7 linked regions of the Homo sapiens genome follow. The protein of the gene in region 1 purifies or fractionates together with the protein of each later gene. This does not show direct contact. Each region holds a gene or a part of one and is shown in the gene's direction. Other genes may lie near its edges.

Region 1 (3,500 bases):
AGCAGAGATGGTTCTGAAGCTGATTGCCATGGACCCCTACGAGTATTTCCAGCAGGGTTGGAATATCTTCGACAGCATCATCGTCACCCTCAGCCTGGTAGAGCTAGGCCTGGCCAACGTACAGGGACTGTCTGTGCTACGCTCCTTCCGTCTGGTACACAAAAGCCCCAGGGCCAGGGGCTGGGATGGGGGTGGGGTGAGGAGACTAAGGAGGGTGGGCACAGGGATGGGAGGAGAAACCCCAGGAAGCTAGAGGGCTGAAAACGAGGCCTCCTCTGCCTTGTGCACACCTGTTACCTCTCAGAACCTTTCTTACCTGTAAAACAGAGAAAAGGAGAGCCCTGTCTTCTTTCATAGGGCTGCTGGGGGGACCCAAGTGACAGAGGCCAACACTGGGTTTGATTCCTTAATGACCTTGAGCAGCAGTGGAGCAGGAACTCCAGCCCCATACTGCAGACCTGAAAGCCGGGGCTCTGGAAGTTCATTAGGAGTAGGATTGGGACCTCTGAATTTCTGTCTTTTCACCACCCCATAAGGAGCACTATTATTCTTTTTAAAACTTTATCAGCTGGACGCGGTGGCTCACGCCTGTAATCCCAACACTTTGGGAGGCCAAGGCGCGTGGATCACCTGAGGTCAGGAGTTCAAGACCAGCCTGGCCAACATGGTGAAACTCCGTCTCTACGAAAAACACAAAAATTAGCTGGGCTTGGTGGCGCACGCCTGTAATCCCAGCTACTTGGGAGGCTGAGGCAGGAGAATCACTTGAACCCGGAAGGCTGAGGTTGCAGTGAGCCGAGATCGCACCACTGCACTCCAGCCTGGGTAACAGATTGAGACTCTGTCTCAAAAAAAACAACAACAACAAACTTTATCAAGGGATCTTTTCATGCATGCACAAAAGTATAGAGAAAGTATAATGAACCTCCACGTACCTATCACCCAGCTTCAACAACTATCAACATTCTACAATTCCTGTTGCATCTGTCCCCCAATTTTTATTGTGAAAGCAAATCCCAACATATAATTTCACTTGTAAATACTTTAGTCTGTATTTTTTTTTTTAGACAGGGTTTCTCTGTCACCCAGGCTGGAGTGCAGTGGTACGATCACTGCTCACTGCAGCCTTGACCTCCCCAGACTCAGGTGATTCTCCCACCTCAGCCTCCTGCATAGGTGGGACCACCATGCCTAGCTAATTTTTGTAATTTTTGTAGGTCAGGGTTTCGCCATGTTGCCCAGGCTGGTCTCCAACTCCTAGGCTCAAGTGATGCACCTTCTTCGGCCTCCCAAAGTGCTGGGATTACAGGTGTGAGCCAACTGCTCCCAGCCATAGTCTGTATCTTTAACAGATAATGACGAATGACATTTTTTCTCTTTTCTTTTCTTTTTCTTTTTCTTTTTTTTTTTTTTTTTAGTGGAGTTTTGTTCTGTAGCCCAGGCTGGAGTGCAGTGGTGCAATCTCTGCTCACTACAAGCTCCACCTCCCTGGTTGAAGCGATTCTCCTTCCTAAGCCTCCTGAGTAACTGAGATTACAGGCACTCGCCACCATGCCCGACTAATTTTTTGTATTTTTAGTAGAGACAGGATTTTACCATGTCAGCCAAGCTGGTTTCCAGCTCCTGAGCTTAAGTGATCCACCCGCCTCGGCTTCCCAAAGTGCTGGGATTACAGGCGTGAGCCACCGCGCCTGGCCTGGACTTGTTTTCTTTTTAACACATGAAGGGCCTGAGGTGGTAGAATGAGTGTTCCCATTTAGCAGAAGGGCACACTGAGGACTCAGATGGTGTGGGGGGCTGGAGATTCAAGCTACTCGACACTGTTCTTTCTCCTAAGGCTGGGGCTGCCTTGGGTGGTGGTCCCTGGGCCTCATTCACCCTTGCCCTCCCTGCTTGGCAGCTGCGGGTCTTCAAGCTGGCCAAGTCGTGGCCAACGCTGAACATGCTCATCAAGATCATTGGCAATTCAGTGGGGGCGCTGGGTAACCTGACGCTGGTGCTGGCTATCATCGTGTTCATCTTCGCCGTGGTGGGCATGCAGCTGTTTGGCAAGAGCTACAAGGAGTGCGTGTGCAAGATTGCCTTGGACTGCAACCTGCCGCGCTGGCACATGCATGATTTCTTCCACTCCTTCCTCATCGTCTTCCGCATCCTGTGCGGGGAGTGGATCGAGACCATGTGGGACTGCATGGAGGTGGCCGGCCAAGCCATGTGCCTCACCGTCTTCCTCATGGTCATGGTCATCGGCAATCTTGTGGTGAGTGAGGCTGGCTGGGTGGCCCCTGCCCTCACCCGGGAAGCGTACAAGATGTACCTGATATTTGACTGTTTTCTATCTCCCCAACACATCCTCTCCAAAATGGCAATTTTATGTGGTTTAACCCCGTAGTTCTCAAATTTTAACCTGTGTAAGAATCACTTAGGAGTTACTTAAAACATAGATCCCCGGCCCCACCCCCAGAGTGTCTGATTCAGCAGCTCTGGGCCTAGGCCTGGGGACCTGCATTTCTGACAAGCTCCGAGGTGATGCTGATCAGTGGATGCTGATGGTGGTTCTGGGACCATGCTATGAGTAGCGCTGTTGGAACCTAGTGTTTTGAGTAAAGCAACATGATAATGAGTCAGACAGACCCACATTCCAGTCCCAGCTCCTTTGCCATCATCTGTGTGACCTTGAGCTAACTGCTGCTCTCTAGTCAAGCTGGGTTCTCTAACCCTCACATAGAAGAAAAACAACAGGGAGTTCATGAGGTCACTGCAAAGATGATGCCATAGTGTGTACAAAGGCACAGTTTTGTGGGGGAACCTGGGCCTCCTGGCCTTCTCCCACCCTCTTGACCTCCTCTGCTCCAGGGCCTATGGTCCAGGCGCCGAAAAAGAGAATCAGGCTGGATGTGGTGGCTCATGCCCATAGTCCCAGCACTTTAGGAGGCCAAGGCCAGGAGTTCAAGACCAGCCTGGGCAACATAGCAAGACACTCTTATCTCTACAAAAAATGGAAAAATGAAAAAAATTAGCTAGGCATGGTGGCACACACCAAACCCAGCTATTTGGGAGGCTGAGGCAGGAAGATGGTTTGAGCCGTGGACTTCAAAGCTGTAGTGAGCTGTGATCCTGCCACTGCACTCCAGCATGGGGGGGCAGAGCAAGACCCCATCTCTAGAAAACAAAAAAGAAACAGGTGCAGATATTGGGAAAATGCAGAGATGGCATAAACTGCATCTCTTCTGCCGCTTACTGTGGTTCAGGGCTTGGCATGAGGGGCTGGTGCAGAGGAAGGGGCCAGGAGGTGAGAGCCAGGGTATAGGGCCATGGTCCAGCTGGCCAGCATTTCTGCGGCTAGGGCCTCTGGAGGTGACCCTGACTTCTCCCCTTCTTGGGGTGGCAGTGGAGGTCACTCCTGCCAGAGCCCTGCAGTGCTGTGCCCAGCTGCCCCCTGCAGTGGCTGGTGCTGCCCTGGGCAACAGGGACTGGGAAGACGCCTGTCCCCATGTTCCCCA
Region 2 (3,500 bases), on another chromosome or scaffold:
TAATGACAGGAGCTCTTGGGGCGTCGTCATGAGGATTACCTTGACTTAATTCAGGAGACGTGCTTAGAACAGTGCCAAGCACAGGGTGAGACCACAGTGCCAGCTGTGGGGATCATTGGTATGTTCTCCTGGGTGAGGACAAGTAGAGTGAGGGCTGCAGGCCCACTCAGCCGGGACAGCACTTCCTGGGACATAATCTTGGGGGCCTCAGCTGGCCTGGATCCTTGTGCCAGCTCTCAGTGGGGACTAGCCTCTCCCCACATGCAGGGCCACTTGCTGTGGCCGCTCCCTTGGCCCAGACTTTCTCTTCAGTCACAACAGGTGCAGCCTCTGGAAGGTCTTTTTCTGCCAGGGATGTGCCTGCCAGCTTGGGCTGGGAGAGCTGACTTCTGCTCCGGGTGGAGTGAGATGTTTTTATTGGAACCAGCCTTTAGCTGGCTTGGGGATTTCATTTCTCCTGGCATAGAGGTAGGAGGTGATTAATGCTGAATGGGCACTTGCTTGGTGCCAGGTCCAGTGCTGAGTGCTTCATGCATGGCACTCTATGTAATCACAGCTCAGCTGTGCAGAGCTGCCATCCTTATTCTTGCTTTACAGACAACCATCTGAGGCTCAGAGAGGCTGACCAACTTGCCTGAGGTTGCACAGCAGGGAGTGGTGGTCTGAGGATTTGACCTTGGGTCTGTTCCATTGCAAGACAAATGCCCTTTGAACTACATTGCAGAAAGACAGTTCTAGGTCCCAAAACCTGGTGGCTTAAGGGGCACTGTGGGGACTCTGAAAGGTGTCTGGCTACCAGGACGTGTACTGCAGCCCTGGTTGAGCCCTCCAGTCCCAGCTCCCTGCTTCAGCTGGCTGGCAAAGCTTTGCATGGTCCAGCCTGTGCCGCCCTTTCATCCTCATGCTCTGCACTCTCTCTGTTCCAGGCTTGTTGGCCTCCGCACCTGCTGCTGAAATACAAGCTTGTTTCTGCGTGGGGCCTTTGCATGGGTCGTCTGGCTTCTTTCTGTTTCCATGTTTCAGATGAAATATCCTCTCTACAAAGAGCCCTTTCATGACCTGCCAACCTAGAGCTGCCCCTCCCCACTTTCCCCCTATTTCTCCATTTCCAGGTTGCACAGCACCTTTCCATCCAGTGCTCACTCTCTGTCTCTCCACTGGAATGTGTTCCACCTGAGCAAGGGCTGCCTTGCTTTTGCTCACCCTGTCTCTCCAGTGCCCAGGACAATGCCAGGCACATACCAGCCATCAGGAGGGTTACCAACTACTTCCTACAGGAGCAGGGAGGGGAGGCAGGGAGGGGCTCGGCTAAGGGGAGAGCTCCAGGCAGGTTGTGAGGTGTGGGTGCTCTCCTTGCTAAGGGCAGGGCCAGCTGAGCTGGACGGGGTGGCTCCTAGGGTGGGTGCGAAGGTTGGTTGAGGTGCAGGGACTTTCACAGAATCATGCTTGGTCTCTGGGACTTTAAGGGCCATCTTTTCCAGCCTAGCACCTGCATTTGGGGACACGAAGATGAAGAAAGTGGAGGCCAGTTGTCAAGGAAGGACCTTTCCTCCCAGTGCCTAGTCACTACCCTGATATCCCACCAAGAGGCAGCCCAGCCTTGGCTTCCATACCTCTCTAGTGACAGGGGGTTCACTACCCTCTAGGCAGCCATGCCACACTTTGACAGCTCTGACTTGAAAGTGTACAGCCTCTCCCTGCCCCAGGGTGACCCACATAATAAACTGCCTCCGTCTCCTGACAGGGCCCCTTCCTGTCGTCTGAGCAGGGCCTGGGCGATGACGGCAGCTCCTCTTTCCTGCTTGCTTCCCTCAGTTCAAGTGCTGTGGCGGGGAGGACTACCGAGATTGGAGCAAGAATCAGTACCACGACTGCAGTGCCCCTGGACCCCTGGCCTGTGGGGTGCCCTACACCTGCTGCATCAGGAACACGGTAGACACTGCTCCTGTGGGGACTGGGGGGCTGTCGGGGACCCCAGGTGGTATAAATGTTCTCTTTTCTCTCTTCCCAACTTGAAGATGGGTGGTGTGGGTGGATGGCAGGGAAGTAGGAGTTGGTGGCAGAGCGGAGGCTTTCCTGATTCTCAAGGGCTCCTGAAAGTGGAGCTTCTGGGGGTCGGGGGTAGGGAGACCATGTCTTTCTTAGTGGTGTTGGTTAAAATCTATTGAGCACCTACCTTGTGCAGGCCTGCTCTGGGCACTTTGGTGGTATTTACTCATTTAGTATTCACGACAACCCTGTGAGGTATGTACTGTTATTTTACCCACTTTACAGATGAGGAAATTGAGGCACTCAAAGGCTGGGTGTCTTGCCCAAGGTTGGCAGGGCTGGGATGAAGTGCAGGCAGCTGTTGCCTGAGCTACACTCTGGAGAACTGTGCAGGCCAGGTGAGGGCAGGAGGGAGAGGTGCCCAGGCCAGGGGAGCTTAGCGGGGGTAGCTGGCTCTGCAGCATTAGTGGAGGCAGGCAGGACCTGCACCTTGGGCATCTCCATTGGTCTTTGGCCTTGAGGTCCTGGTGATCATCAGCAGCAGAGTGCTTGGAAGGGGGTCTGGTGACGTAAATGCCATCCTCTTCCTCTCCCCAGCACGATCCTCTCGGGTCTGTCACCTTGGTCATTTGGGATGATGTCTTGTGTTGTCAGCGCTTAAGTGAAAGGCTTCATCAGTCCTTGTGTTTGACAAATGTGTCCAGAAACTGTTTCAGGATTGGAACGAGGTGGAGAGCTTTGCAATTACTCATGGCCCAGATAGTCATGGAAAGTTTTTCTCCTGACATTGCCACCATTCTGTGCCCACTGCTGGATTCTGTAAACTGAGCAGCTGCGGGTGGGGGCCTCGCCCATGAGTCAGAGAGCCAGTGCCAAGTGCACTAGCTCTAAAAAAGGCCGGGCCAGGAGGGAAGCTTTGTTTGGAAGTGTTAGCTGCCATTTTAGGGTAGTTCTCTGGGAAGTGGGGTGCTGAGGAGTAGCAGAGTTTCCAGAGAGGCCTGCGTGGGGTGATCCTGAACCTCATCACCCAGGGCAGCAGCATCTGAATACCTAAGCTGAGATGTGGAAGCCAAACTTGTATTCATTCATTCATTCATTCATTCAACAAATATTGGCTGAGAACCTACTCTATGCCAGACACATTTCCAGGTTCTGGGGGTGTAGCAAACAAAGTCTCTGCCCGCAAGGAGGTGACATCCTAGTGGAGAAAACTGACAAACAAAATAAGTAAAAGATAGAGGATCATAAATGCTGAGTAGAAAAAGAAAGTAGGGCATGGAGGATTGCAGTTTGGGATACTGAGAAAGGCGGGATCTGGGTGAAGCTCTGAAGAAAGTGAGGAAGGTGTCTGGGGGAGGGGCATTCCTGGCAGCAAGAACAGCTGTGCAAAGGCCCCAGGTGGGAATCACCCCAGGGCGTTTGAGAAATGCACAGAGTGGCTGGAGCAGAGGGAGCACAGCGGAGGATGGTAGGAGGTGGAGTCAGGGAGGTCATGGGTACCCCGAAGGCCA
Region 3 (3,500 bases), on another chromosome or scaffold:
GCTGTATTAATGGGAACACGGAGGCAGGCTAAAGTTGACATGTCTTTCCAAGTTCATTTGTTTCTCAAATCATTTCTTTTTGTTTTGCTTTCTTAAGATAAGTTAGATGCTTATCACACTGAACATTATGTAATTGCGTGCACAGATTAGATTCTTAAGAAATTCTTTTTCAATCAGTGTGTTGTATAAATAGCTGTCTACTTAGCTTTGTTACCTGGGGGGGAATAGCTTTATGTTACCTGTGACTTTGAACAAGTTTGTTAGCATTTCTGAATCTCCTGCATCTTTAAAAATGGACATGTTAAATGAGATATGTGCTACACCTACTGCACTCAGCACTTTGTTACCTGCTTCCTAAACGCTAGAGATTCCTTCACTGCTAGACCTCTTGAGAGACTAGTCTTATGATCACTGTTTTCACTTCCTCAACTTACTGGCGGTGTACTCCAATATATTTATTTGTCCTTCCTCCTAAAACTGTGCATGTAATCAAATCATAGCTATTAATGTCCCCCAATTGTGAAATATCCCATGTCCTGTCCTTTTCTTTTCTTTTTTGAGACGGAGTCCAGCTCTGTCACCCAGGCTGGAGTGCAGTGGCGCGATCTCGGCTCACTGCAACCTCCGCCTCCTGGGTTCAAGCAATTCTCTGCTTCGGCCTCCCGAGTAGCTGGGATTACAGGCACCTGCCATCACCCCTGGCTAATTTTTTGTATTTTTAGTAGAGACGGGGTTTCATCATCTTGGCCAGGCCAGTCTAGAATTCCTGACCTTGTGATCCACCCGCCTCAGCCTCCCAAAGTGCTGGGATTACAGGCGTGAGCCGGTGCGCTTGTTTAAGAAACAGTGGAAGGCCAAAGTAATGAGTAGAGAAAATGAGACAGCCAAGATCATGCCACTGCACTTCAACCTGGGCGACATGGCATGACTCCGTCTCAAAAAAAAAAAAAAAATGCCGGGCGCGGTGGCTCACACCTGTAATCCCAGCACTTTGGGAGGCCGAGGCAGGCGGATCACCTGAGGTTGGGAGTTCGACACCCCATCTCTACTAAAAATACAAAATTAGCTGGGTGTGGTGGCCTGTAACCCCAGCTGCTCCAGAGGCTGAGGCAGGAGAATCGCTTGAATCCAGGAGGCGGAGGTTGCGGTGAGCTGAGATCGTGCCATTGCACTCCAGTCTGACCAACAAGAGTGAAACTCTGTCTCAAAAAAAAAAAAAGATTGATGGTGTTTAAGGGGGTGGTGGTGAGTGGCAGGCAATGCAGAAGTTACTAGATCATGGTAAGGACTTAGGATGTTTGAAGGGGTTTAAGTTGTGAAGTGACTTGATCTAACTTGAGTGCAATGGTGTGATTGAGGTTCACTGCAACCTCCACCTCCGGGTTCAAGCGATTCTTCTGCCTCAGCCTCCTGAGTAGCTGGGACTACAGGTGCCTGCCACCACACCTGGCTAATTTTTTGTATTTTTAGTAGAGACGAGGTTTCACCGTGCTAGGCTAGCCAGGATGGTCTCGATCTCCTGACCTGGTGATCTGCCCACCTCGGCCTCCCAAAGTGCTGGGATTACAGATGTATTCCACCATGCCCGGCCCTGTTTTAGCTTTTGATGTAAGGTTTCCTCTAGAGTAGCTTGATGGTTGAGGAACCATCTTATTACCAAGGACTCCCTTTTTATATTTCTTCTTTTGGAGACAGGGTTTCACTCTGTTGTCTGGGCTGGAGTGCAGAGGTGCGACCTGTGCTCACTGCAACCTTCGCCTCCTGGGTTCAAGTGATTTTCCTGCCTCAGCCTCCTGAGTAGATGGGATTACAGGTGCTTGCCACCACGCCGGGCTAAATGTTTTTTGGGTAGTTTTAGCCTAGTGTACCTTAAATATGCTCCAAACACTTAATATTAGCCTACAGTTGGGCAAAATTATTGAACACAGACTATTTTACAATAAAGTGTTCATTATCTCATGTAATTTATTGAATACTATACTGAAAGTGAAAAACAGAATAGTTGTATGAGTACTCAAAATATGATTTCCACAGAATGCATGTTGCTTTTGCACCATCATAAAGTTGAAAAATTTTAAATTGAACCATCATAAGTTGGGGACTGTCTTGTGCTTAGAATAATTGGTTACATATTAACTGATACATTTGCTTTCTTTCTTAATGCCTGCCTGTTGTACTCCAGGTACTCCACACTAGATTTGGGGGAGTCTTACAGAAAATACTATGTAATCCCTATCTTTGAGAACTTAAGCCTAATGTAAGAGACAGAGAGTATTGCTCTCTGATTATAGGACAATGTAACATGTGACAGGATGCTCAGTGTAGTGGGACCGCAGAGAGGATGAGATGAGAGGTGGTGGTAAAGGAAACTTCAGAGGGTGAGTTGGAGGCGGTTTAGCGATTAGAGGGCAGGTTGTAGAATCTGATAGTCTTTGTTTTGAATTCTAGTTCTGCTGTTGGAGAATTATTTGATTTGGGACAAGTTAAATCACTTCCCTAAACTCATCTGTAAAATGAGGATAATACTTATCTAAGGTTGTAAAGATTAAATGTAATGTAAAAAGTTTAGCAGCACAGTGCCTAGAGGTACATAATAGGTGCTCATTAAATCAGAACTGTTGGTATTAATTCTATTACTGCTGTAGCTGTGATTCTTTGAAGGCTTGAGTAGGAGTTAGCTACATAAAAAAAGGGCAGAGGAGAAATAGCTTTCTATAGACAGGGAAGAGTATATGGGACACTATGGTGGCCAAAGAATATTTGGAAAATAACAATAGTATCTGTCTTGATTCTGTTGAGATGAAAATAATACATGTAAAACACATAAGCACTAAAAAAAATCAGCTGTTATTATTCTACTTTGAGAAATATTGCATTGTGCTATACTGTTTCATATGGCTTGGGTAATAAACTTTAATCTGGCATTTATTTTTTAATCATTTTGCTATCTTTTTTTTTTTTTTTTTTTTTTTTTTGAGACGGAGTCTTGCTCTGTTGCCCAGGCTGGAGTACAGTGGTGTGATCTCAGCTCACTGCAAGCTCCGCCTCCTGGGTTCATGCCATTCTCCTGCCTCAGCCTCCCGAGTAGCTGGGACTACAGGCGCCTGCCCCCATGCCCAGCTAATTTTTTTTTTTTTTGTATTTTTCGTAGAGATGGGGTTTCACTGTATTAGCCAGGATGGTCTTGATCTCCTGACTTCATGATCTGCCCACCTCAGCCTCCCAAAGTGCTGGGATTACAGGCATGAGCCACCGCACCCGGCTTCATTTTGCTGTCTTTTATGCTTTAAACTTTTGCTATATGCTCTTTAAAAGAGTATCTACTTTAAATTCCCCATCATCTGGCCAGAAAAAAAAAGTCTCTGTTCATCTGGCCAGAAAAAAAAAAATTCCCATTATTCCTTGTAAAATTCCTCTCTTACTGAAACATCTTGGTTCCTTTTGTGTCTTTCTTTTTCTTCCCTGATTTCCTCTACTTTGAGGCTGTCCCTCAAAGTTTA
Region 4 (3,500 bases), on another chromosome or scaffold:
TGAGCCACTGCGCCAAGCTTTTTTTGTTGTTGTTGTTTTTGAGATGGAGTCTCAGTCTGTTGCCCAGGCTGGAGTGTAGTGGCATGATCTTGGCTCACTGCAACCTCTGCCTCCCAGGTTCAAGCGATTCTTCTGCCTCAGCCTCCCAAGTAGCTGGGACTACAGGCACATGCCACCATGCCTGGCTAATTTTTGTATTTTTAGTAGACACGAGGTTTCACCATATTAGCCAGGCTGGTCTTGATCTCCTGACCTCGTGATCCGCCCGCCTTGGCCTCCCAAAGTGCTGGGATTACAGGCGTGAGCCACCACGCCCGGCCAAGCTGTATGAATTCTAACGTCAGTGTTTCCATCTGTAAAATAGGAAATTATGTATCCTGTTCAACGAGATAATCCATGTTGAAGCTCAACACAATAATGAAAGCCAAAAAGGTGAATTCTAAGGTTTTGAGTTGAGATATTAGGAAAAATAGTGCTGACATGGGCTGAAATAGATGAATCAGAAAGGACATAGTAGTGTTTCATGTGTGTATAATGTGATAGTACAATACTGACAGGTTTAGGTCTGGAGCTTGAGGCCAGTGTCAGGACTAGAAAGAGAGAGAGATTTGTTAACCACCCATCATCTGGATCTGACTAAATCAGCATGATTATTTGTATCATTTGGGAGGGAAGGTACAACATCTGTAAGCATTACTTTTCTTCAAAGGGTACCTTAAATGGGATATTTTTTAAAGCAGCTGATTATATAAACCCTAAAAGGCAGGAATTTAAAAATAGTAAAGTAGGACTCCTTCTGGTTTCACATGACATTTTACATTTTTTTTTTTTTTTTTTTTGAGACGGAGTCTCACTCTGTCACCCAGGCTGGAGTGCAGTGGTGCAATCTCAGCTCACTGCAAGCTCCGCCTCCCGGGTTTACGCCATTCTCCTGCCTCAGCCTCCCGAGTAGCTGGGACTACAGGCACCCGCCACCACACCCGGTTAATTTTTTGTATTTTTAGTAGAGACGGGGTTTCACCATGTTAGCCAGGATGGTCTCGATCTCCTGACCTCGTGATCCACCCGCCTCGGCCTTCCAAAGTGCTGGGATGACAGGCGTGAGCCACCACGCCGGGCTGACATTTTAAATTTTTGAATGATCAGTTCTTTGGGTAAAGGGGCCCTGGATCCAAATCCAAATAGATTTTGATTGGCTATAGTATGGACTGATTTTTTTTTTTTTTTTTTTTTTTTGAGAGACAGGGTCCCACTCTGTCTCCCAGGCTGGAGTGCAGCGGCATGATCATAATTCTCTGCAGCCTCATCCTTCTGGGCTCAAGAGATCCTCTTGACTCAGCCTCCCAAACAGCTGGGATTGGTGCATGCTCCCACACTTTGCTAATTGTTTTTTATTGTTTTTTGTAGAGATGGGGTCTCAATATATTGCCTAGGCTGGTCTTAAGCTCCTGGCCTCAAGCGATCCTTCTGCCTTGGCCTCCCAAAGTGCTGGGATTATAGGCATGAGCCACCATGCCTGACCTCTTTTTTTTTGAATAAGTGCAACGAAAGCTCTGGAATTAAGTCACATTGAACTGATTTGGGTCATATACCAATTCTTCGGTCAATTACTGTAGTCTGCCTGGGTCATGTATCTACCTCTTTGGAAAGGAGGCAGTCTCACCCAAAATGTACACAAGGGGGGTATCCCATAGGAAAAATTAGGGTGCTGTTACCAAAAGAAGGGAAGATTGATGTTGGGCAGGCACAAATAACATATCCATTTCAACAGGAAAAATATCTTTTCTGTTACCTATTTCTACAAATCCATCGGTTTATTTGATAGTGTAACTAAAATACATATAAATTTCCAGGCCGGGTTTTGTGGCTCATGCCTGTAATCCCAGCACTTTGGGAGGCCGAGGCGGGAGGATCACTTGAGCCCAGGAGTTTGAGACCAGCCTGGGCAACATGGCAAAACTCTGTCTCTACAAAAAAATACAAAAATTAGCTGGACATGTTTGGCCCATACCTGTAGTCTCAGCTACTCGGGACGCTAAGGCAGGAGGATTGCATGGGCCCGGGAGGCAGAGGTGGAGGGTGCAGTGAGCCGAGATCGTGCCACTGCATTCCATCCTAGGTGACAGAGTGAGACTCTGCCTTATAAAAAAAGAAAATTTTTTTTTTTTTGAGAAGGAGTTTCACTCTTGTTGCCCTGGCTGGAGTGCAATGGCACAATCTCAGCTCACTGAAACCTCTGCCTCTCAGGTTCAAACGATTCATTCTCCTGTCTTAGCCTCCTGAGTAGCTGAGATTACAGGCATGAGCCACCACACCTGGCTAATTTTGTGTTTTTAGTAGAGATGGGGTTTCACCATGTTAGTCAGTCTGGTCTCAAACTCCTGATCTCAGGTGATCCACCTGCCTTGGCCTCCCAAAGTGGTGGATTACAGGTGTGAGCCACTGCGCCCGGCCAAGAAATAAATTTTTAAGGAATGAATTTCCTGTTTGACAAAAGCAGGAGCTTCTAAAAAATTAATAAGAAATTAACAGGCTGGGCACGGTGGCTAACGCCTGTAATCCCAGCACTTGGGAGGCCGAGGTGGGTGGATCACCTGAGGTCAGGAGTTCGGGACTAGCCTGACCGACATGGAGAAACCCTGTCTCTACTAAAAAAATACAAAATTAGCCGGACGTGGTGGTGCATGACTGTAATCCCAGCTACTTGGGAGGTTGAGGCAGGAGAATCACTTGAACCCGGGGGGCAGAGGTTGCGGTGAGCCGAGATCGCGCCATTGCACTCCAGCCTGGGCAACGAGCAAAACTCCGTCTCAAAAAAAAAGGAAGAAGAAAAGAAAGAAATTAACAATGATATGATGCTTTTTACATGCCTGGTATTGTTCTAAGCACTTTAGGTGTGTTAATGCACTAATTTGATCTCTAAAATGGCAAACTGTTATCAACCCCATTTTATAAATGAGAAAATTGAGGCATGGAGAGATTAAGTCATTTGCCCAAGGTGACCTCGCTAATAATATTTTGTATGAAGAGCTAGCAATCTTTAGGTATGGCTGTTCCACCAGTATCATCTTGTTTAGATATCTGTCAGGAATAATGTTAGAAACTTTCTGCCATGTTTTAGTCTTTCCTGAGGCTTTCACCCAAAGATTGACAGTTCGTATAGGCTTAGCTTTTTGAGTTCAGGGTAGAGCCCAAGCTATTAGTACTTATCTAGAAACCCACCCCTACTACAGCTATGAGAATCAGGGTTGCTGGGCATGGTGGCTCAAGCCTGTAATCCCAGCACTTTGGCAGGCTGAGGTGGGCAGATCACTTGAGCTTAGGAGTTTGAGACCAGCCTGGATAACATGGTGAAACCCCACCTCTACAAAAAAGAAATACAAAAATTAGGTGGGTATGGTGGCGTGTGCCTGTAGTCCCAGCTACCTGGGAGACTGAGGTGGGAGGGTGGCTTGAGCCCAGGAGGTGGAGGCTGCAGTGAGCCAAGATTGCACCACTGC
Region 5 (3,500 bases), on another chromosome or scaffold:
TGACCCCAAAATTAAGTCTGGTCCTGCCCACACCCTATCTGGAACCCCCCACGCTACTCTGAAGGTGACTTCTCTGGGTGGCCACCGGAGTGTCCTATGTGAGTTGCTGCTTATTTCAAGAGGGGCCACCCCCCAGGCCTGAGATGAGCAGTCCTGAGTTACAGACGCTTCATCTGTGAACATTCTGCACACACAGACATCTTCCCCCTCCTCTCAGCACCTTCCCCACCCCTAGGACCCTGTGTTTCTTCCTTCACACTCTTTGCTTCAGCAAGAGGCTGCACCGGAAGAACTCAGGTCAGAACCCAGCGTTTTCACAGAGGAAGAGTTCCTTGAGAAGGTAGGTAGTTCACCCCAGCTTGAACCTGTACTCTGCTGGTTCAGGAACTTAGACCAGCACTTATCTGCGTGTTCCAGTTTCCTGACAACTTGGTTCATCTGGGCAGCTGCTGTTTGGGAATGGTGTTAAGACCACGCCTCCCAGCCGCTGTATCTGGCACCTCGTGACTTTATTCTTTTTTGCATACTTGCCTTTCCTTGTCCTTTTAAAATCCTGAGTTCCTGTGCATTAAGAAAGCAGCCTAGGCCGGGTGCATGGCTCATGCTTGTAATCCCAGCACTTTTGGAGGCTGAGGTGGATGGATTGGTTGAACCTAGGAGTTTGAGACCAGCCTGAATAACATAGTGAAACTCCATCTCTACAAAAAATACAAAAATTAGCCAGGCGTGGTGGTGCGCGCCTGTATTCCCAGATAGCCGGGAGGCTGAGGTGGAAGGATCGCTTGAGTAGAGGTTGCAGAGAGCTGAGATTGCACCACTGCACTCCAGCCTGGGCAACAGGGCGAGATTGTAGGGTATTAGGTCAGTACATAAAAATCAATTAAATATTAAAAAAAGAAAGAAAGAAAGCAGCCTAGGGACATGGAGACGGGGTGGGAAGGCTCCCTAGGCAAGGAACTGCCGCTCTCTGGGTGTCAGTGTACCCTACTGAGGAATGGGCATAGACCATTCAGAACTAAGATGTGGTGGTGCCTTGGGATCGGTTAGGCTGTTGAAATGTATTATTATGATTATTATTATTATTATTTTTGAGACGGAGTTTCGCTGTGTTGTCCAGGCTGGAGTGCAGTGGCGTGATCTCGGCTCACTCCAAGCTCTACCTCCCGGGTTCACGCCATTCTCCTGCCTCAGCCTCCCGAGTAGCTGGAACTACAGGCATATGCCTGACTAATTTTTTTGTATTTTTAGTGGAGACAGGGTTTCCCCGTGTTAGCCAGGATGGTCTCGATCTCCTGACCTTGTGATCCGCCCGCCTCGGCCTCTCAAAGTGCTAGGATTACAGGTGTGAGCCACCACGCCTGGCCTGAAATGTATTATTGATGTGACTTTGTGGGTGTATTTGTAGTAAGAGTGGCAGATCAGATGTAGCTTCACAGCCTGGGGTTGGTGACCAGAATGTACTTTCTTGGAAAAATGCATGTGGCTTGTGTGGCTTTGATGCCCCACGTGGCACCAGGGAAGCTTCTCTGGGTAGCAGCAGCTCCTGCTCCCCGACTTGCTGCCTATTCCGATTGCTTGCAAGTCCCCGTGCCCTCTGAGGACCTGCATGTACCCGGTCTGGGGCCCCTCCAGAGATCTGGGATGACTGTCCCCTCCCGTCACTTCTCAGGTCTCCCCCACCCTTTACTGCAGCCAGAGGAGGATTTGTGGGAATGATTCATTCAGAGCTGCTTGAGATCTTGGCCAGCCCCCAGAAATTGCAGGGAAGGACCTCAGAGGCAGTGCCCACAGGCCCTAGGGAACGTCTGGGGCTGATGGCCCAGGGAGAAACTTCTTATCCTATGTGCTCAGATGGCGGGCAGCCAGCCCGTCTGCCGAGTGACTTTGTATCAGTAAGACTTTTGACTGGGGCTTCTGCAGCCAGAAAGCAGGCAGGCAGCCCAGAAAGCAGGCAGTGTGATAGGGAGCTAGGGGGCACTGGCCTGTATTAGAATCCAGGTGCTCCACATCTTTCTGGGGCTGTTGGCTGTTTCTCTATGCTTTGGTTTTCTCATCTGTTGAATGCAGGTATAAGTAGGACCTATCTTCCAGGGGTGCTGGATGGAAGGGAATGGTGGTAAAGCACTTATCTTGGTACCAGGCAAAAGCTGAGGCCCTGGGGTTAAACAGGCTCTTTGGAATTTTGAACATGTTCGTTTGTGAACCTTAGTTCCTCCGTCTGTCAAAAGGCAACAATTATAAATACAGCCAATATCAACAGGGCTTACTGGGTGCCAGACACTGTTCTAGGCACTGTATGTGGTTTAACTCATTTAATTCCCCCAACAGCCATATGATGTGAACAGGCTGAGGCTCAGAGAGGTGAAGTAATTTGCACAAGGTCACCCAGCTAGGAAGTGGGAGACATAGGATTTGGATCCAGAATCTTTCTTTTTTTTTTGTTTTGGGTTTTTTTGTTTGTTTGTTTTGAGACAGGGTCTTGCTCTGTTGCCTAGGCTGGAGTGCTGTGGCACAATCATAGCTCACTATAACCTTGAACTTCTGGGCTCAAGCGATCATCCCACCTTGGCCTCTCAAGTGCTGGGGTTACAGGCGTGAGCCACCACACCCAGCCCAGACTCTACACTCTGAATTCTCATTCTTACTCCTCCTTGATATCCCATCTTAAGGCCTAGCACATAGAAAACACACAGAAAACATCAGGTGTTGTTATAACTATTCTGAATAAATATTGATCCGCTCTCCATCCCTCTGTCCACACTCCTTCCCTGATGATCAGAACATGCAGGGCTCTTGGCCTGTAAAGTCCAGATTCCCACCCACTCCTCCCTACTCGCTCTGTTCCTCCCACTCCCACACTCTCATGCACAGCAGAGCTTGGAAGCAGCCAAGTCCCAACTCTTCCTCCAAATTGCTGTGTGACATTGGGCAAGGAGCTTCCCCTCTCTGAGCCCCAGTTTCCGTACATGTTAAATGGGTGAGTTCACCCTGCTGCATGTTTTTTGTTGAGCTCCCATGCTACGTGTGTGTTTTTAAAATTGAGTCAACATTCAAACATTTCTAGAGAAAAATTCTGATTTCTCATTTCTCTTGGAAACCCAGGAGCTTAGGCCAAACTGGAGTGGCCTGAAGCTGCCCCTTAGGTGGCCTGGACTCTCCCAGTCACTGTGGTTCCCCCTACTCCCCATTGTCACGTAAGTGCGGCTTTTCAGGGGATCTGAGGATGCCTTAGGCCTGCCTCGTGCCACCTGAATAAGCAGTTCCATTGCTTTAAAAACAATTTTTTTTTTTTGAGACGAAGTCTCGCTCTTGTCGCCCAGGCTGGAGTGCAATGGCATGATCTTGGTTCCTTGCAACCTCCGTCTCCTGGGTTCAAGCTATTCTTCTGCCTCAGCCTCCCAAGTAGCTGGGATTACAGTCGCATGCCACCACGCCCAGCTAATTTTTGTATTTTTAGTAGAGACAGGGTTTCACCATATTGGCCAGGCTGGTCTCGAACT
Region 6 (3,500 bases), on another chromosome or scaffold:
AAAATGCAAAATCTTGGGCACACTCTAGACCTTCTGAATCAGAACCTGCATTTTAACAAGATCTCTAGGTGATTCCTGCACTGGTTATAGTTTGAAAAGCGTCGATTTAAAGATAGTTCCCGACCTTGGCTGCATATTTAGAATCACTCGGGGAGCTTTTAAAAATCCCAGATGCCAGGCCTGGCGCAGTGGCTCACGCCTGTAATCCCAGGACTTTGGGAGGCTGAGGGAGTTCCAGACCAGCCTGGCCAACGTGGTGAAACCCCATCCATACTAAAAATACAAAAATTAGCCGGGCATGGTGGTGGGTGCCTGTAATCCCAGCTACTCGGGAGGCTGAGGCAGGAGAATTGCTTGAACCTGGGAGGCAGAGGTGGCAGTGAGCTGAGATCGTGCCATTGCACTCCAGCCTAGGTGACAGAGTGAGACTCCATCTCAAAAATTAAAAAATAAAATAAATAAATAATAAAAAATCCCAGATGCCTGGCTGCATCCCAGACCAATTAAATGAGAATCTCCGAGTGGAGCACAGGCATCAGTTGCTTTAAAAGCTCTCCAGGTGATCCCACTATGTAGCCAACCCTAGCTCCACTGTGCGTTCCCTGGACCAGCAGCGTCTGCATCACCTGGTAGCTCGCTGGAAATGCGAATCTCAGGCGCAGACCACCTGATCGGAATCCACACTTTAACAAGGTCCCCAGGTGATCTGTATGCATATTGAAGTTTGAGAAGCACTTTCCTTGGGGACCACACTCCAGGAAATCAGCCCTTGGAGAAACTGAGGGATATGCCAAGATGCACCGAGGAGAGGTCCTTTCCCTCCCCTCTTGAGCTGCTTTTGTCCCATTTTTATGAGTCAAAACAGTCATCTATCCACTTCTCTGCAGGCATTTATTTTACCCCTCAGGTATAGGAGGAGCATTACAGACAGACCCTGGAGCTACAGAGACTTACTTAGCAGCTCTATGGCCCTGAGTAAATTAAACTCTCTGAGCCTCAGGTTCTTCATCTGTAAAAAAGGACACCATTACCCTCCTTCTTATATGTCAGAGAATTAAAACAGTTCATGTATGCAAAGGGCTCTTTGTGTACTAAGTACCAAGGAAGAGGTAGCTGCTTTTATATGCTGATGGAGGGGCATCTAGGGTAGTTGGAGGAGCTGCAGGCCTTTCCCCCAGTCATGGCAGTATCTGCCTTGTCTGTGAGGAGCTGGCTCCATGAGCCATGGGCTCAGTTGTGGCTGCTGCAGCCCTGAGACTGGAGATATTTCCCTGGTGTATCTGGTTAATGTCGTTGGGTTTTGCTAAGGATGACGGGCTTGTTTACACTGGCTCTCAGTCCACCACTGGCTCTCAGCTTACCATTATGTCCAGGCTACTGGAATTCAGGGGGCTTCCCCTTTACACTGGTGCTGGCCTGGAGAAGTTGCCTGCAGATTATACTCTTGTACACTAAACCTTCATTTTAGTGCCCCAGGGAGTTTGCTGCTTAGAGGCATCTTACAAAAATCCTTTGGTAAAGCACATCAATCCTCCTATGGCCCCTCTGCCTGGGTTTTCAGTGAAGGGCTTGCTTGAGGGAGTCCATCTGCCAGTTGATACTGATACTGTTTTCATGGCAGAGATACACTGAGCTTCCCACTCTTGTACACCACTGCTCATGGCAGCCTTGCATGGGGTTCTCAAGTCTAAGGAAGGGTGAACACATGATGGCATAAGCAGAGAATGGATGTGGGGTCAGATCAGAGGGCATCCAGTGTCATTGGAGAAGGTCTGTGTCAGCTTTTGAGAGATGGAGACCCTGCCTAACTTGGCAAAGAGCTTCCCAAAGGCCAAGCAAAGGTCTGTTTCATTTCCCCTAAGCTTCACTTAACAGATTTAGGATTTTGGAAGCCTGGTGCTACTGAAAAGGACATTTCTCAATTCCAGAGCATAAGATATTCTTCAGTGAGCTATTCAAGTCCACTTATCTTGAGATACTGATAGTGTGGCTCAGGGATAGCAGTTGAATTTCAACCTGAGCGTCAATGTCCATCCATTGGTCGCAGCTACCTGGAATGTTAAGTTGAGGATTCTGGATCATTAGGAATAAGTGCCATGCTTGATATTACTGTGCTGGCAATTGTGGTTTGTTATTGGTCATCTACCATGGGCAAAGATGTGTTCACTATGCCTGCTGTAGCCTCAACTTACAGGTCCTTCACCTGGCATGCTTCCTTATGGAGGGCACCACCAGGGAGATGCTGCCTAGATTTTTAGATGTTTTCTTGGTCAACCCCAATACAAAGAGTAAAACGTACCTTGCCCCGCATGTCGGCCTCCCTCATTTTGTTATAGTTTCTGGTCTAAGAGACTAATTTCTAATTTATTTATTATTTTTAATTTTTATGTTTTTATTTATTTGTGAGAGACTCATTTCTTTTCCAAGTAATGACTCAGATTACCTCCCTTCTCAGGTGGGACCCCTTCCCTGTACCTAAGGGTGTGACTTTGCATTTGAAGCCCATCAGAGTAACCATGCCTACTGCATTCATGTAACAGGAATTACTTTATATACTAGAACATAAAGGCCTGCAATGGAGTACTGGCCCCTCATTTATTTAGATGTGCCAGATGTCCCACTCTTTTATGTATGTATATTGCCTCATTTAATCCTCACTGGCAACCTTGTAAAGGAGCTACTAGTAACATTATTTTGTAGATCTAGAAACTGAGACACAGAGAGTTTATATAACTTGCCACTTGCTGGAGGATTCAAACCGAGGTTGGTTTGGATGCTTATACCTATGTTTTTCTCACTCAACCTTGACCACAAGGAACTGCTAGTTTGCCAGGCCAGATGGCCAAATCCACAATCAGTTAAACTGTTGTCAGGCAGGAATGTGTTTAGTAATAACCCTGTGATGATATCACAGGATTATTTGATCCTGTGTCTTGCTGGGGCAAAAAGCGGGGGTTGTACATTTTGTGTTTACAACTCTTGAAGAGAGACCTGTGTCGTCTTGCCGTGCCAACTGTACATTCAACCATCTGTGTTTCTTTTCCATTGGCCTTGCTGTTGCAGACATCCTTGTTCGGAGAGGGGACCTACCTCACCAGTGACTTGAGCCTGGCCCTCATATACAGCCCCCATGGCCATGGGTGGCAGCACAGCCTCCTCGGCCCCATCCTTAGCTGTGTGGCCGTGTGTGAGGTCATTGACCATCCGGACGTCAAGTGCCAAACCAAGAAGAAGGGTGAGTGAGCACTTGGTCCAGACCTGGGCTACAGGCCTCTGTTGGGTGTACAGGCTCTTGCTGGCCCAGCTGTTGGGTAGAGCACCCATTGCATGCCCAAGGGTTGGGCTGGATCCAGGGCAGTGCCGGACAGGGTCCTGCCCAAGGAGCGAGCAGTCTTCTTAGAGATTGAACACTCAATGGAGACCATTCACTACAAGGGGGTAGGTAGGGGGTGCCAGGTAAGGAGGCTGACGAGGCCCACAGAGGCAGCTCAGAGGAAGTA
Region 7 (3,500 bases), on another chromosome or scaffold:
AGTACCATTGACAATGACTGTATTCCCCCAAATCCACTTAAGTACTCAACCTTAGGTGTAAAAGTATTTAATTGCAATATTCTGGAATTCAGGAAAGAGTGCTTCCTGTCACCAACTTCCTTAAACCTAAGGGAAGGGATCTTGGCTGGGATCATGGAACTTTTTCAGAGTTTGTAGATGATGAGTGCAGGTTCCTCCAACCCAGTTTCTCAACTCAGTACTATTGATATTTGGGGCTTGATAATGCTTTGTGGCAGGGGGGTGTCCTATTTGTTGGAAGATGTTTGGCAGCATCCCCGGCTTCTGCCCCCTACATGCCCGTAGCATTGCGGCAGTGCTGACAACCAGAAATGTCTCCAGACACTGCCAAATGTCCAAGGGGCACGAGCGGGGTGGGAATCTCCCCTGGTTGAGAACCAGTGCCCTAGCCTCATGTTAAAGACCCTGACTGGCTGGCATCTTGGCTAAAAAGAGATTCTGAGAAATAGATGTCATCTCCTCTGTGAGGCATCATCCTATTCAGGGACAGGGACTTCAGACAAAGCTCGTGGAAGTTCCCTGTCAGCAAGAAACTATTCCTGGATCTTCTGGTCTCTGGTTTCAAGTCATGATTGAAAAAGATCTGAGCTCATTCAGGATTTCTTTCCCAGGGAAATATGTAGTATTTACTTTCTGTTTACAACAGCTTTAATAGAGCTTTTCTGCTTCTGCCAGTCAAATTGATAGCACATTACTTTAACTAGAATTATTTCAGCAGGAAAGCCCTGGTTTTTCTTAGCTCAAGTCATGTATTCTTCTGGGAAATAAGAGAATACTGGAAATAACAGTGACATCAGGTTCTTGCCTATGCCCTAATTCTTCCTATACCAGCAGAAAATAAGCTGGTAGACACCCATGGCCTTAACAGATGCTGTATAGGCTTTGCTATAGAACACCTTCCTCAGTCTGCCTAATAGTTGGTTCCAAGATCCCCTCAGGCCCAAAATACTACCTCACGAATCACTCTGGAAGGGTCTTTTCTGGGCCTGGGCAGCCATTTGTCCTTGTGCTGGTAGTTCTGAACAGGCACTGCTTAACTTGCCCATTCCTATTACTCCCTATGGAATGGATTACTTTTCATGAGGATCATGGCACTTCAAATCCCATAAAATACCGTCAACATGGGAAGTCAGTTTGTGGTTAGTGGAATCTCAGGTGCTCCTAACTGACCAATTTGACAGTCCTTAGCAGTTGTCTTGGGTTCCTGCCAGCCTGCAGGCCCAGCTTAAGTGCCTGGAGAACCCCGTCCACATGCTGCCTCACAGGTCCCAGCTCCTACATCACATTGTACATGGCTTCATCATCTTCCTCCTTCCACCTGCAACATCCCAGACTCTTTGCCTCCTTCCAAGCATTTTTAAAGTACTCCCCTCCCCAATTTTAAAAGTAATATATGTTAAATATCTCAGGGGAAAGAAAGCACTTCAATCCCATCATCTAGAGATAATCACTTCCTATTTACACATCTACTGAGAAGGCCATAAGTTAATCCTGGGCCCCATAAGGGCTCCACATCCCCTGCCTTGAGGTTCTGCCAGACACCGAGGTAACAGAATCGTGACCACCAGGTGTGGCAATGCATGCCTATAGCCCCGGCTGCTCAGGAGGCTGAGGCAGGAGGATCGCTTCAGTCTAAGATTTTGAGTCAGCAACATGGTGAGACCCCATCTCTTTAAATAAAGTAAATTAAAAATAGAACCATGACTCACTGCCTACTTGCAAAATCACCAAGGTAGATTGGCCTTTAGACTCTTCTATATTAAGCCTCTTAGGTTTCACACAAGAATGATGAACCAACCATCAACTTTTTTTTAAGGCACATGGGTCTGTATTCAGTAGATAGGTTAGAAGAGCTGCACTTTGGCACTTGCCAAAGACCACAATATCAAGTTCACTGTCACTCAATTTTAGCAAAACATTTGTTTAAAAAGATAAATATTGAGGAGCATTGCTTAAAGGATCTTCCTACTATTTTAGATATTCTCAAATCTATTCTGGGTTCAAGACAGAGAGCAAAAAGCTGGGTATATGGAGCACATTGGTTAACTTTCTCCAATGTTTGATCATTCTGAATTGTGCTTTGTGTTGAAACATATGAAGCTTATTGTAGTATCTGTTGTCGAGATGTTTTCAGACGATGACTACATCACATAATGTCTTCTTAAGAACCTCAGGGAGAAATGACTGTTTCACTTCTAGCATTTATAGGCTGCTTGGAAACCTGAGAGCCAAAATTGGGGTCCACCATAGCAAGTGTAGATTAATATGCCTTGCCCATTTTTTTTTTTTGGCTTTGTTCTTGACTTCTCTTTTTGTTTTCTTCTTTTGTACTTAATTGTGTGCTATCCTGTATTTTATACATAAATGAGTTACGAAAAATGCCTCATCCTCCCCAAAGTCCTATGAGATCTCTAGGCCCTTTTTAAAGAGATCTCTAGGTCTCCCTATTTATATTTATAGACACTACTACATTTTGAATTTATACACAGCCTTTTATCCTGAGCAACTTCAGAAAGGGAAAAGTTAATAACTTTCTCTCATGATCTCATTGTATTACTAGGTTGGAGATGCTTGATGCTGCAAAGAACAAGATGCGAGTGAAGATCAGCTATCTAATGATTGCCCTGACGGTGGTAGGATGCATCTTCATGGTTATTGAGGGCAAGAAGGTGAGAAGGGGTTTCTTCTCTATCCAGTATGTATGTTCTCCACCAAGAACCTAGAGTAAATCAGGGATTGACCCTTGTATTTACCCTCTGAGAAGAGGAGGCTACTTTCTACATTACATGAGAAAAGATAAGCAAAAAAATAAGACATATTGGGAACAAGCCTGGAATATCATCCTTGGGGATAGATAGCAAATCCTAACTTTGGCGTGGTGAAGAAGGACTAGATTCATTTTGTGTAATGTAAATTTAAAAAGTGTTTCTGATGACAGGTGTCATAATGTAAATTAAGAAATAGGACACTGGCATATTTAATCACCCACTGCATATTTCCAGAGTGCTCTTGGTACCCAAGTGTATTTACCCTCACCATAACTGCCTTCAGCATGGTGAGCTTTCTTAGCGGGGTTCTTTATTTGAAGCTCAGCCAGACAGGGCCATGTGTCTAAGGACCACAGCTCCTAAGCAGTACATAGGAATACAAGTCCAGAAATCTTTAGCACAGATTATAATTAATAGCTATCACTAATTGAACACTCACTGCATTCCAGGTACTTTTCTAGCTGGTATCTCATCTGAACCTCACAAAAACACTGTAAGATAAGTATTATTAGGACCTGATTTATAGATGAGGAAAACTATAGCTTAGAAAGCTTTAGTAACTTGCCCAAGGCCACATATCTCCTTAATGACGAGCCACAGTGTGAACCTAGACCCAATTCAGGTAATAGGAAAATTCCTCCCATTTATTGAGTGCTTATTATGTAACAGGCACTGTTAAGCTCACTTAATCAC

Evidence for each region.
Region 2: the proteins of SCN4A (region 1) and TSPAN15 purify together in Homo sapiens (affinity purification with mass spectrometry; one large-scale study listed by BioGRID and IntAct). This does not show direct contact.
Region 3: the proteins of SCN4A (region 1) and SOAT1 purify together in Homo sapiens (affinity purification with mass spectrometry; one large-scale study listed by BioGRID and IntAct). This does not show direct contact.
Region 4: the proteins of SCN4A (region 1) and PIGU purify together in Homo sapiens (affinity purification with mass spectrometry; one large-scale study listed by BioGRID and IntAct). This does not show direct contact.
Region 5: the proteins of SCN4A (region 1) and TPST2 purify together in Homo sapiens (affinity purification with mass spectrometry; one large-scale study listed by BioGRID and IntAct). This does not show direct contact.
Region 6: the proteins of SCN4A (region 1) and PARP16 purify together in Homo sapiens (affinity purification with mass spectrometry; one large-scale study listed by BioGRID and IntAct). This does not show direct contact.
Region 7: the proteins of SCN4A (region 1) and FAM162A purify together in Homo sapiens (affinity purification with mass spectrometry; one large-scale study listed by BioGRID and IntAct). This does not show direct contact.

Annotation. Positions count from the first base shown.
Region 1 is NC_000017.11:63,955,919-63,959,418, reverse strand, and holds part of SCN4A (sodium channel protein type 4 subunit alpha), read left to right. Parts: coding exon 1-154; intron 155-1,900; coding exon 1,901-2,257; intron 2,258-3,500. UniProt on the Homo sapiens protein: Pore-forming subunit of Nav1.4, a voltage-gated sodium (Nav) channel that directly mediates the depolarizing phase of action potentials in excitable membranes.
Region 2 is NC_000010.11:69,496,465-69,499,964, forward strand, and holds part of TSPAN15 (tetraspanin-15), read left to right. Parts: intron 1-1,744; coding exon of another isoform or gene 1,745-1,815; coding exon 1,816-1,932; intron 1,933-3,500. UniProt on the Homo sapiens protein: Part of TspanC8 subgroup, composed of 6 members that interact with the transmembrane metalloprotease ADAM10.
Region 3 is NC_000001.11:179,296,797-179,300,296, forward strand, and holds part of SOAT1 (sterol O-acyltransferase 1), read left to right. Parts: intron 1-3,500.
Region 4 is NC_000020.11:34,670,593-34,674,092, reverse strand, and holds part of PIGU (GPI-anchor transamidase component PIGU), read left to right. Parts: intron 1-3,500. UniProt on the Homo sapiens protein: Component of the glycosylphosphatidylinositol-anchor (GPI-anchor) transamidase (GPI-T) complex that catalyzes the formation of the linkage between a proprotein and a GPI-anchor and participates in GPI anchored protein biosynthesis.
Region 5 is NC_000022.11:26,583,633-26,587,132, reverse strand, and holds part of TPST2 (protein-tyrosine sulfotransferase 2), read left to right. Parts: intron 1-3,500. UniProt on the Homo sapiens protein: Catalyzes the O-sulfation of tyrosine residues within acidic motifs of polypeptides, using 3'-phosphoadenylyl sulfate (PAPS) as cosubstrate.
Region 6 is NC_000015.10:65,262,884-65,266,383, reverse strand, and holds part of PARP16 (protein mono-ADP-ribosyltransferase PARP16), read left to right. Parts: intron 1-3,063; coding exon 3,064-3,235; intron 3,236-3,500. UniProt on the Homo sapiens protein: Intracellular mono-ADP-ribosyltransferase that plays a role in different processes, such as protein translation and unfolded protein response (UPR), through the mono-ADP-ribosylation of proteins involved in those processes.
Region 7 is NC_000003.12:122,404,682-122,408,181, forward strand, and holds part of FAM162A (protein FAM162A), read left to right. Parts: intron 1-2,599; coding exon 2,600-2,708; intron 2,709-3,500. UniProt on the Homo sapiens protein: Proposed to be involved in regulation of apoptosis; the exact mechanism may differ between cell types/tissues.